Linked DNA regions of Homo sapiens: all the other regions are linked to region 2. The links come from fine-mapping of genetic effects on gene expression. A gene starts in region 2. Each other region holds a variant in brackets. All regions are shown on one strand. Distances are from middle to middle.

Evidence for each region. PIP is the estimated chance that this variant, and not a neighbour inherited with it, causes the effect.
Region 1: its variant is the best candidate, but not a certain one, in a credible set for the expression of TNFSF4 in whole blood (INTERVAL, PIP 0.75).
Region 3: its variant is the best candidate, but not a certain one, in a credible set for the expression of TNFSF4 in whole blood (TOPMed, PIP 0.63).

The regions. Positions count from the first base shown.
Region 1 is chr1:173,180,434-173,184,433 of GRCh38, forward strand. It overlaps TNFSF4 (TNF superfamily member 4), which reads right to left. Exons shown (of 3, transcript NM_003326.5): 3 at 3,298-4,000. Among named protein-coding and RNA genes, the nearest start is that of TNFSF4, 25 kb to the right of the region's middle. The variant G/T (reference allele first, on the strand shown) is at 1,584.
Region 2 is chr1:173,205,064-173,209,063 of GRCh38, forward strand. TNFSF4 (TNF superfamily member 4) reads right to left here and starts at 2,268. Exons shown (of 3, transcript NM_003326.5): 1 at 1,961-2,268. The coding sequence starts at 2,113. RefSeq lists an enhancer at 2,200-2,259.
Region 3 is chr1:173,174,006-173,178,005 of GRCh38, forward strand. It overlaps a transcript of TNFSF4 not described here. Among named protein-coding and RNA genes, the nearest start is that of TNFSF4, 31 kb to the right of the region's middle. The variant C/T (reference allele first, on the strand shown) is at 2,285.

The sequences.
Region 1 (4,000 bases), 25 kb before region 2:
GGATAAAGTATCATTAATTATATAAGTAATGTATTATAAAATCTACTGCTCTGTCTCAGGTCTCCTTATGTTACAAATTGACACCCTAGAAATGAAAATTCATAGATAAAATTATTTTAGACTTTCAAATGTCTGCCTTTTCAAAAACTACTATTTATTTGACCACTAATAAAATGAGATTTAACCATGCATGCAATGAGAATTGTTTATTACTTACCTAGAAGAAGTGTGTTTGCGTCAGTGTTCAAGAGTTTAAAATAGTATGAACATGATTAAAGGGATAGAAATAGTATTAATTTAAATAATTAAAATAATTTGGTATATTTTATCAATGCTACTTACTGATGCAACAGTATTTTGAAGTGCATCTAGGTAATGCATGTGTGTTAGGGATACGATGAACAATAGACATGATAGCAACAAGTATTTGGGAGAGCAAAAGAGATCAAGCTCAGCTAATTTTTACTTCTCTCAAGGAAACAGATGATTACTAAGTACCTAGCACAATGCCTGGCATAGCATATAGTAGAAGCAGAAAAAATTTATTTCAAACTGGCTGAGTGTTGATGGTTTTATAATAGTAAGTGAGATTTTCATAAATTTAAAAGGCCATGTTGCCTTAAGGAATGATCATAGGATTATAGAATGTTATACCTTGAAACTGATTATAAGGGGAGAATACAGATTGTCATATCCTAAAAATTACTTAAAGGGTGTATGTCCTTGTTAATAAATAGTTCATCCTAAATGACAATAGAGCACTGGACTGAAATGACCTTTAGAGATTACCTTCTGCTAATATTTCTACAACTTTGGGTCTTCCTGTTAATTACTTTTGTATTTTGTTGTTATTGTTCTTTGTTTTTAACCTCAAGCCTCAAATACCAAAGAAGGCCAAGATCGTATAAATCAGGAGAAAAATCAGGTCTTATGTCCACAGCAATAAAGAGCTGTATTTTCTCAGCATTGGCAGGACTCCAGGGAAATCCAAATGCTAAAAGTCTGTGTTTCCGCTCCTAACATCCCTCTGTTCCCTCAGTAGATAAGCCACAAGGATATGATCAAAGTCAATCAGTTCCATTGACCAAAATTTGATCAAAGCCCATTTTAAAATCATGCCCCATGAGACCATGGCACCAGATTTCTCAAGGGCTCTGGCATAATGGTAGGATACTCTGAGCGCTCAATCTCCTCTTCCTAAGGCAGTTCCCTCCCTGAATGCTACTCCAGTTGTTCCCCAGGCCCTTAGTCGGAACTAGAGGGCCTTACATTCCATGACTCAGGGCCATCTGACCAGCTTTAGGGGATGGAGGGAAGGTAAGGCATTAAAAGTGTTCATGTGCCAATTCTGCTAGGTAATATTGACATTTACATTTTAACAACATCTTTCCGTGCTTTGATCCCGTGGAGTGAATGAGTGGCTACAACAGCTACAATGGCTAGTTACAAGGTATGCTGCTAAGGAAGGCTCCAAACCATCCACATACTCCGTAAGGAAGGCTGCTGCAGGAATAAAATTCCAAAGGGCTGCCAAAAAATATATTTAAGTAATAAAAAATACATGTATAGAGTGGTTGAAATCC[G/T]CAGGGACTACTTCTTGGTGCTCCTAACATTCCATTTGATATTTTAAAATGCTACTGAAAACCACCCCAGTATGGTCTTTATTAAACATTCACTTCTGAACTTAATAAGCTCTGTGCATACCTTTTGCAAAAAGTATTATAAACTTGGTTCTTATGTTCTTACAACATTTCTTTTTCTTATTCTCTTCTAGTAAAAGTAATTCAAAGCTTTTGTTCAACTGATAGAAAAAATAAGGTATTTTTATGAATTGGGCCAAAAGGGAAAACGGAAAAATGTTTATGCATTTACCCAACATCATGAACCAGGAGGAGGGACTTGCCAAAGAGGATAGAATGTTCTATTTTGAGCATACTAAGTAGAAGAGCCCATTACATCCATACAGAGCTGCCCAGAAGCAGAGTAGCAGTGGTTGAAAGTGTGGTCTTGGGTGTTAACTACCCTTGATCTTGAATCTAAGCCCCACCACTTAGTAGCTGCATGCGTTTAGACAAGTTCACCTCTCAGAGTCTCAAGTTTTCAGACGTAAAATAGGAATTATACCACTTACCTCAAAGAATTGTTGAGACAATGGAAATAACAATTTATATAAATGGCTAATACGATGCCTGGCACAGGGAAAGAACTCACTAAATGGTATTTTATTACTAATAACACAAGTGATTACAACAAATGAGGCACTGGAGTAGAAGACATCTGGGCTGAAAAACGGTCTTAGGTATTGCTGATGTGGGAGCATTGATTGAAGGCACAAGAATCAATGAGATTGGCAAGGGTATAGAGCAGAGACCACAACTCAAATGCCTGAGGGACTTCAGCAGTGAGTTTGTGTAAGTGCATTTGCACATTGTGTGGGTGAGGAGAACTCTTGGGAAATGGAGTTCATGGAGTCTCCTTAAAGAGGGAAGCTGCCACTCTGTTTGGGAAGGTTGCTGCCATGCCAAAATTGGGCCCAGCATCACCAGATCTCCTGTTTCTGTTTTTGGTTTTGTTTTCAAAAAAGATCAGAAATTTCCCGATATTTAAATATCAGCTACTAAATTCAACTTAATAAACAGATGAAACACAGACATAGGCTAGACTGCGGCTCATTGGCTGCCAGATTGCAGTTTCTGCTGTAGAGAAAGAATAGGGCTGAGAGTAGAGTCCTGAAGTACACCAGCATTAAAGGGGTGGCAGAGAAAGAGGAGGGGTGATGAAGACTAAGAAAGGCAGAGAACAGAAAGAGAAGTCCAGAAAAGGGTGAGGTCAAAAAAGCTGGGGAACAGAAGTGTTTTAAGGAGGACAACGTCATCAGCACCATCAAAAGTAGCACAGGGATCACTGTGGCCAGACTATGCTACACAAACCCATTAATAGTTGTGACCTTTTATTGAGACAGCAGATGTAATTACCACTTAGGAGAGGGGACATAAGAAATCATCCAGGGTTAGAAATAAGGTTCTGAGGAAAGGAAAAACAGTACATGGTAGAACTCTATTTAAATCAGTCTCTCTTGAACCATGAAGAGGGACTCTAAGGACCTCCAGTGAGCATCTTTTCAAAAGCAAAGATGGGCTTTGCCACCTCAACCATCCCTCAGATGTGTCTTTGATGGCTAAAACTGGAGGCAAGTAGGAAACTGGAAAGCTTGCCCCGTCCTCCCCTCTTCAGAGGATGAGCTACTCAGAACATGGAGAAGACAAGGATAAATGAACACTCCAACACTCTCACCAGTAGTGAATTCTGAGATCTTTTATTTGTTTCCATGTAAATAGCAATATTACTATTAACTATATTATTAATATCAATATTAATACTCTCTGAGAGCCAGGAAAGCACTAAATACAAAATTATGACTTAAAATAGGGGACCTGCCCAGTATACTTAAGAACAAATTATGATTTGGATCGGGATTGGAATCCCTTAAGCATTCTCTAAATAGAAAATATCTAACTAACAATTGATAACTGCTCTTGAAGGACTCACAAAGATGGCTGAGGAAGATGTAAGCTTGTCCAGAAAAAAATACATTCAACATAGTAAAGGAGAAGGTTACACTCCTTGACTCATAGCAACAAGAACATAGACATTTAATATGTGCATTCACAGATAACACTGTAAGCATAAGATTCTAAACTGTTAGATATTTAACATTCCTCTCATTTAACAGAAAGAAAAGCAAGACCCAGAAATGGGAAATGACTTTCCCAAGGTTACATGGCTAGTTAGTGGCTAAGTCAAATTTAAAATTCTGATCTCCTGACTTTTCATTCAATTCTTTTCCCACAAAACTCTGCCATGTATATCGAAGGGTTAATTCTCCCTGTGAAGGACATGACTTACAGGGACTGAGACACACACACATATTTTTGATGGAAGGAAGGTGGAGTGAGGCTGGTGCATAGCAGAAATATCCCTGTGTGGTTGCAGAGGCCAA
Region 2 (4,000 bases):
TAAGGACCCATTGTGCTGTCCCAGATCCTATAACAATATAAGAAATTACATTAGCTAATTAGAAATAAAAAAATTATAATTAACATCAAGTGAAGAACTTCAAATATCCTGAGCAAAAAAAAGAAATCTATTTTCAGAGTAGACAGGGCATGTTTCTTAAGCAAACAACTCAAATATACCACCTATGTCTTGCTTCCATCTCTGTGCCAGGACTATAGAAGCTAATTCTCCCCTAGAGATCACTCACCATGAGGTTTAGTGTCCTAGAAACCAGCACCCTGCTTTTCTTCCCACAGCTTTCCTTCTGTCCCAGAGTTGCTGGATGACTTGTTGGAAAGGATCCCCTCTTTTTCTCAACATCTCCTGGATATTGATAGTCCAATGTGACCCCAACCACCAGCAAGCTGTACAACTGTGGTTCACCTTTTGCTCTCTCCTGCTCAGAGCCGTTGTGCAATCAGTTAGCCTTGAATGGAGCCATGTGTCCTGTGTTTTATCATCCCATGGTGTAAGGAAATATGTAACACTGTGGTTGTTAGAAAAAGCACTCTCAGGGCTCCCAGACTGGTGAATGCACTCAGCTGTTCTATATTTGGTTACTCTCTTTGTTTTCTTCTCAAAAGAGCCTAATTCCGGTTGATGTCTTGGGCATCCGGTCGATGTCTTGGGCATCCTGCCATGGACACCTTACTCTTCCCCCACACCCTCTCCCCGAGTCGCCTACTTTAATTTCACCCAAAGAGTTCTGCGAGAAGACATAAGAGTGTGGTGTGATGAGGAGAGGATCAATGTGTTGTTGTGCTCACTGTTCTGCAGACCTGAGCATGACACTAGCTACACTTCTGGAATTTGGAGACACAAGCACTGTCTGTGGTACAGTGATCATAACCACACACACTCTTACCAGCCTCCATGCACTGAAAACCCTATTTCCTGTAGGCAGAAACAAGCCCAGGCATTTGCCAAGACTGCTCATCTCATTCTGGTTTCATTGGAGGTGCTTAATCTCAGACAAGACCATCAGAAATCAGTTTGTATTACCTGAACTTTATCAGGGAGAAACATTTCTAACCCAAAGCAACCACCTAGAAAACAAGATTATCAGACTAGCTCAACAAAGGAACACGAAGAGAGTATAGATTTATTTTTCTCCAGTGGCATCTTCTGCAGTGAAGAACATCCTTAAATACCTAATAATGTTTGTATATCTGAACTACTGAATAAGAAAAAATAATGCAAAAGAGAGAAGTGTGGAACAAGAATAAAGTGAAAGAAAAATGGAAATATTTTAACTATATGGGGAAAATACTAGAAGGATAATCTCCTACTACATGATGTATTTAATAAGGTAGGGAAAAGGTGAAATGATGTCTTTAAATTATGACTGGAAGAGATAGATTGTGAGAAACAATATCTGATTAAATCATTGGGGTGAATGAGTGAGCACATAGGCACACACACATGCACGCACACATTGCTCCGCTATTAATATTGATACCTTCAGCATTCTTTACAAAGAAAATCACCTTGCAGGTCTATAGGGTATATGAATATTATGGGAAAGTGGAACTGGTCTCTTTCCTATTTCCTTTTAATATTAATTGCCTGATCAAACACATTACTATCACAATGGGTAGACCAGGTATATCAGTGACTCAAAGCTTCAAAGTGACAGCTTATAAAGGGATACAAGGAATCTTGCATTGCAAAGAAAAAGAAAAAGATCTAGAAGCTGTGCCTCTGCCCTACCTCCACTCTGCCCTACCACTGCCACTGCTGAAAAGAAGGAAGGAAAGGAGAGACAGAAGGGCGTTTAACCACACTTTACGATTGCTGTGGGGAGAGGGAAAAAAAACTCAACACTTTTGGCATAAGATTATTTCCAAGCGACTGTTTGCAGCTGTTGCAGCTGCCATCAGCATGAGCTGGTGGGAAAACAGCGCCCAGTGGTGCATCTTACCTGAAGAGCAGAGAAGTGCAGGCAGATGTAGGTGAAGCACAGGAGCAGCCCCAGTCCCTGAATTACAGAGGCCACCAGCAATAGCTTGTTCCTCTCGAATCTTGGCCTGGCTGCATTTCCCACATTCTCTTCCAGGGGTTGGACCCTTTCCATCTTCACAATCTGGGTAGAGGGAAGATGAAGATATGGAAAAGGGGAACGTGCGATAAAACTGAAGTTTTCCCCAGAAAGAAGGAGGTAAAGACAAAACAAAGCCTATCAATCAGAAAATAGGCAAAGGTCCCAGGGCCAGAGATAAAAGGCGATTGAAAGAGCAAAGCGGACTCTCTCAGTTTTAACGCTGCAACTTTTGCAGGCAGGCGGGGGAACTTCTTTGTGACTAATCTGAATTTCCCCTTTACTTTCTTTCTTTTTTTTTTTCCTCTGGGCTAACAGGGAGTTGTTTTTGTGACATTCCAGTTCTGATTTGAGTGACTGTGAAATGACAGTCATAAAAGTATGCTATTTTCTTAACTTATTGCACCAGTAACAAATTGTGGGTCACTTGGTAAAGATAAAAATCATCATCCGTTAATGTAGCAGCTCATATATCCCTTCCCCAAGGTGTCTTAAATCATAGAAAAGATTTAGGGGAAATGCTGGCCCAAGGTTCTTATCTGCACTTTACTATGTAACTAAACATTGAACCCCTCTCACAGATTCAGAAAGAAAGCACACACAGATCATTCTTGAATGAAAAAGACAAAACAAGAAAATAGGACACTGGGTCATGCAGAAGTAAAGGAGAGATCCTTGGTTGTAGTCTATTGCATAAAAATAAACTACCTTTTGGAAGCATTTACTATGTGTCAGACACTGTGTTAGATGGACTTGCAATCTTTCTCTCATTTAACCCTTTGAGGCAAATTCAATAAACAATTATATGATTAATTTTCTGCATACCAGAAAAGAAGCAGAAGGGTATCCTTGTCTCCTTTCCTTCCACTTCACATTTTTCCCGTACATAATTTTTCCATGAATGAACAAATGAATAGATGTAAATAAGCTTTGAAGATTATTTCTTTCTTTGAGGTCGTGGCTGGCCTCAGAACTTGGAAAGTAAGAGTATTCTATCAATAGACACCAGGTACCCTTTACCACTAAAATAAACAATGAAATGAAATAAATGATAAAATTACTTATAATGTAAAGTTCAAATGGGCAAATATTTACTGAGTACATCACATGAGCCTGGCACTGTACTGGACAACATAAGGATGCTGGGGAAAAGCTGTTTAAGACGGAATTGTCTCTCTTTGTGGCCAAGTATGTCTCTCTCAGCTCCCCATGAGGCACCCAGCAGATATGTAAAGAAAGGAGGGAGAAATATTTTGGATATTGACAGTATGAGTTGTTATACCACTTCACAGAAAAAATGGAAATGAGGCATACTTAAAAGAGAAAGTTTGTGGGAAATGTAAAGTACATTTATGACTACAGTATTAATCAATTAAAATATGAATTAATACCTTCACTACAATAATTATGCCTTGCATTAGGAGAACATACTGGTGTTGAGAAATTTAAGTTTTATCTGAAAGATAAGGTAACTAAGGCACAATATCATAGACTCCAAGCCAAAACTAGAAATCAAATTGTATCCAAACATATTTGTCATAGTTATTCCCTTGAACAAAGCTTGTGTTACATACAGGGTGTGGAGAAAAAAGCTGAAGGAAAAATCAGTGTGTAAAGCCCAATTCTTGTGTAATAGTTCTTCATAAAAGAGTATTAAAATCAGTAACTATTTACTCGTCAATTTTCAAAAAATGACTAAGAGTCACAGCAAAAAAAAAAAAAGCCATAAATACTATTGGAAACTAGAAATAAGCTGAAAAAGTAGTAAAAACTATTCATGCTGAAAATCGTAGATAACATTTTTAAATTACTGTCAAAAGAATGAAAAAAATAAACATTTACCATGCACATACTTGTACCTTAAGCAGCATTTCTTCTCAGTGTTAATATCATGGCTCCGAGAAAGAAAAATCTTTGCACAGA
Region 3 (4,000 bases), 31 kb before region 2:
CTGCAAATTTTTCAAACTTTTATGCTCTGCTTCCTCTTGAATGCTTTGCAGCTTAGAAATTTCCTCTGCCAGATACTCTAAATCACCTCTCTCAAGTTCAAAGTTCCACAGATCTCTAGAGCAAGGCCAAAATGCTGCCAGTCTCTTTGCATAGCAAGAGTGACCTTTACTCCAGGTCCCAATGAGTTCCTCATCTCCATCTGAGACCACCTCAGTCGGGACTTTATTTTCCATATCACTATCCGCATTTTGATCAAAGCCATTCAACAAGTCTCTAGGAAATTCCAAACTTTTCCACATTTTCCTGTCTTCTGAGCCCTCCAAACTGTTCCAACCTCTACCTGTTACCCAGTTCCAAAGTAACTTCCACATTTTCATGTATCTTTACAGTAGCACCCCACTCTCTGTGGTACCAGTTTACTGTATTAGTCCATTCTCATGCTGCTATAAAGAACTGCCCGAGACTAGGTAATTTATAGAGGAAAGAGGTTTAACTGGCTCACAGTTCTGCAGGGCTGGGGAGGCATTGGGAAACTTACAATGGTGGCAGGGGAAGCAAACGTGTCCTTCTTCACATGGCAGCAGCAAGAAGTGCAGAATGAAGGGGGAAAAGTTCTTTATGAAACCTCAGATCTCATGAGAACTCACTCAGTATCAGAACAGCATGGGAGAACCACCCCCATGATCTAATCACTTCCCACGAGATCCCACCCCAGACTACAAGATGAGATTTGGGTGGGGACACAGAGCCAAACCATATCAATTGCTGTCTCATTGTTTTCTGTGGGGGAATGAAAGCTGGTATCTCATACACTGCCATATGGCCAATGTCACTTCTATAGAATTTTCAATAATGAAACAAAAAGCTACAGGGCTAGCACCTCATACAGATTATACAGTCTGTCCCACTTGGTAATAATGTAAAAAATACCACTTATCTTAATCATCTATCTTGTAAACCTACAGACTTTCATCTTTCTTTACTCCTTTTAGAGTCTCTTACGTCTTTGTTTTCTGTGAAGTAAGATCCTATCGGGCAGGGACTGTGGTTTCTACAAGTGGTAATTAAAAATTATTAAATACCTTGAAAATGTCATAATCTGTGACCCGTGGTTGGTGTTTTGTTTAATCCTCAAAACAATCCTATGAGATAATTTGTATGATGGCAGAGCAGGGAAGGCAGTGATCAGTAGACCTACAATTAAGTAAAACCAGAGGATACAGCTGATAAGTGGTGGTAAAATCTCAACTTGAACACAAGCCTCCATTGATTCTAAATCTTGAGTGCTTTAGACCAACCATATTATTCTAGTGTCTTTCTATTTCTCTCAGATTCCCCAGAACACCTAACACAGTGGCAGGTACTTTATAAAAGAATTTTTAACAAATATTTGTTTAAATAAATTAATTTTGTTATAGGCCCTCAAATTTAATAAATCTCTAGTGTAAATCTACATTCTTGAAAGGCTCTTATATTATCCATTCCTTGATTTTTTTCTCTATGCCTACTTTATTTTTGCTTTCTCCTCACTTGTACTCCCTCATTCCTTCCCTGATGCTATCAGGCCCCCTGAAAAGGAAGCTTTTGTTTAGAAAGTTATAGCACAACTTGTGCTGCCACTTAGCCACTTGAGAATTTCTGGCAGAAGTCTTATGAAGAGCATGACTTACTGTAATTTGAGAGGCTCTTGTTTTATTTAACATTATGGGAAAAACAATCATCAGGTCAGACCAGCACTTCTTATGTAATGGGGATTTAGGCTCAACTGTCTACATGTCTAGACTAAGCTTGGGACCCTATTTTTCCCCAGGCTCCTTAGCTAGGTTTATTCCTCTTCCAGAAAGACTTTTGTTGGCGCATACATGAGTTCCATTTTCAATTGACACTAAACTAACAGAGCAGTCTACCAAGACAGGAGGAAGTCATGGTTTTTTGTTTTTTTGTGTTTTTTTTCCTAATCTAAGACCAGCTGGCTGATGCTTCCTCTCACAAATGTCTTGTGTTTGTAAGTACATGGCTGGGGCGTAGACTCAAAATGAATGCTACAGCTTCCTTATATCCTATACAAAGTATCTTGTTCTGTGTATCAAAAAGTTGTGGACAGGTAATTAGTAGTGGTGTAATTGCTTTTTTTGTGGGTACATAATTATAATTTATGAAGCTTGCCTAACAAATCATATCCGTAAAAACTAACTACCTTCAGAAAACAGTAAAAATATGGGCCCTTCGATAATTATTTCCATGCTACCAGTATGGACAAAAAAAAATTAACCAAGGGAAGAA[C/T]CTGAACTTACAGAAGGAATATTTCACTATTTAATGAGGAGATATTATTAATGAGGATACTCTATCCCTCAGATGTTGTGTCACTTTGGGAAAGAAAAAATATGGACTCTGAAATCAAAACCGCAGTGAGAGATCATCTCACACGAGTCAGAATGGCTAGTATTAAAAAGTAAAATAATAACAGATGTTGGCAAGGTTGTGGAGAAAAGAGAATGCTTATACGCTGCTGGAGGGAATGTAAATTAGTTCAGTCACTATGGAAATCATAAGTTTGGTGAGTTCTCAAAGTTCTGAAAACAGAACTATCATTCAACCCAGCAAAACTATTATTGGGTATATACACAAAGAAATATAAATCATTGTACCATAAAGACACATAGATACATATGTTCATCACAGCACTATTCACAATAGCAAAGACATGGAATCAACCTAAATGCCCATCAACAGTAAACTGGATTAAAAAATGTGATTCATATATACCATGGACTACTACACAGCCATAAAAAGAACTAGATAATGTCCTTTGCAGCAACACGGATGGAACTGGAGATCATTATCCTAAGCAAACTAATCCAGGAAAAGAAAGCCAAATACCACATGTTATCACTTATAAGTGGGAGCTAAACAACAAAAACATGTGGACACAGAGAGGGGAACAATAGACACTGGGGCCTACTTGAGGGTGGAGGATGGGGGTTAGGAGAGGATAAAAAACTACCTATCGAGTACTGTGCTTATTACTTGGGTGATGAAATAACTTGTGCACCAAACACCCATGACACACAGATTACCTATGTAACAAACCCACACATGTAGCCCTGAACCTAAAATAAAAGTTTTAAAAATGGTTGAAAAGGTAAATTTTATGCTTGCATATTTTACCACTGAATTTTTAGACTAGAAAATATTATAATTTTACCTTAAAGAAAGAAAATGTGGTATATATACACAATGGAATACTATTTGGCTGTAAAAAAGAACAAGATCATGTCCTCTGCAGCAACATGGATGGAGCTGGAAGCCATTATACTAAGCAAACTAATGCAGGAACAGAAAGCAAAATGCCTCATGTTCTTACTCATAAGTGGGACCTAAACATTGAGTACAAATGGACACAAAGAAGGAAACAACAGACACCGGGGCCTACTTGAGGGTAGAGTGTGCGAGGAGGCTGAGGATGGAAAAGCTACCTATCGGGTTCTTACATGGGTGACGAAAAAATCTGTATACCAAACTTCCATGACACACAATTTACCTATATAACAAACCTGTGTGTGTACCCCTGAACCTAAAATAAATTTTTTTTAAAATAAAAAATGCAGATTCTATATGGGAATTTTGTTAGCAATTGCAGTTTTCAGTCTCTGTCCCTGCTAAGTTTCTTCAAGGTAAATCATTTAGTCATTCACAAACAAATATTTACTGGCCAACTTTATGGGCATAGCACTTTGTTAAGTAGAGAAACTTGTTATTATGGAACTTAAAAAAACAACTTGCATCAAATCACTATAATGCAAAATAGAAAGTAATAAGTGCCATTAAAGAATTATATGTTACAGGAATTCAAAAAAAGTAAAAGATATATTCTTCCTAGTGACATTAAAGAAGTTCTCATGGAGGAGCATGTTTGAGCTGAGCCTTGAATGATGGTTACACATCTACTTTTCATATTATAAATAACACAGTTTCAGAATAGAAAAACTAGCCACCATT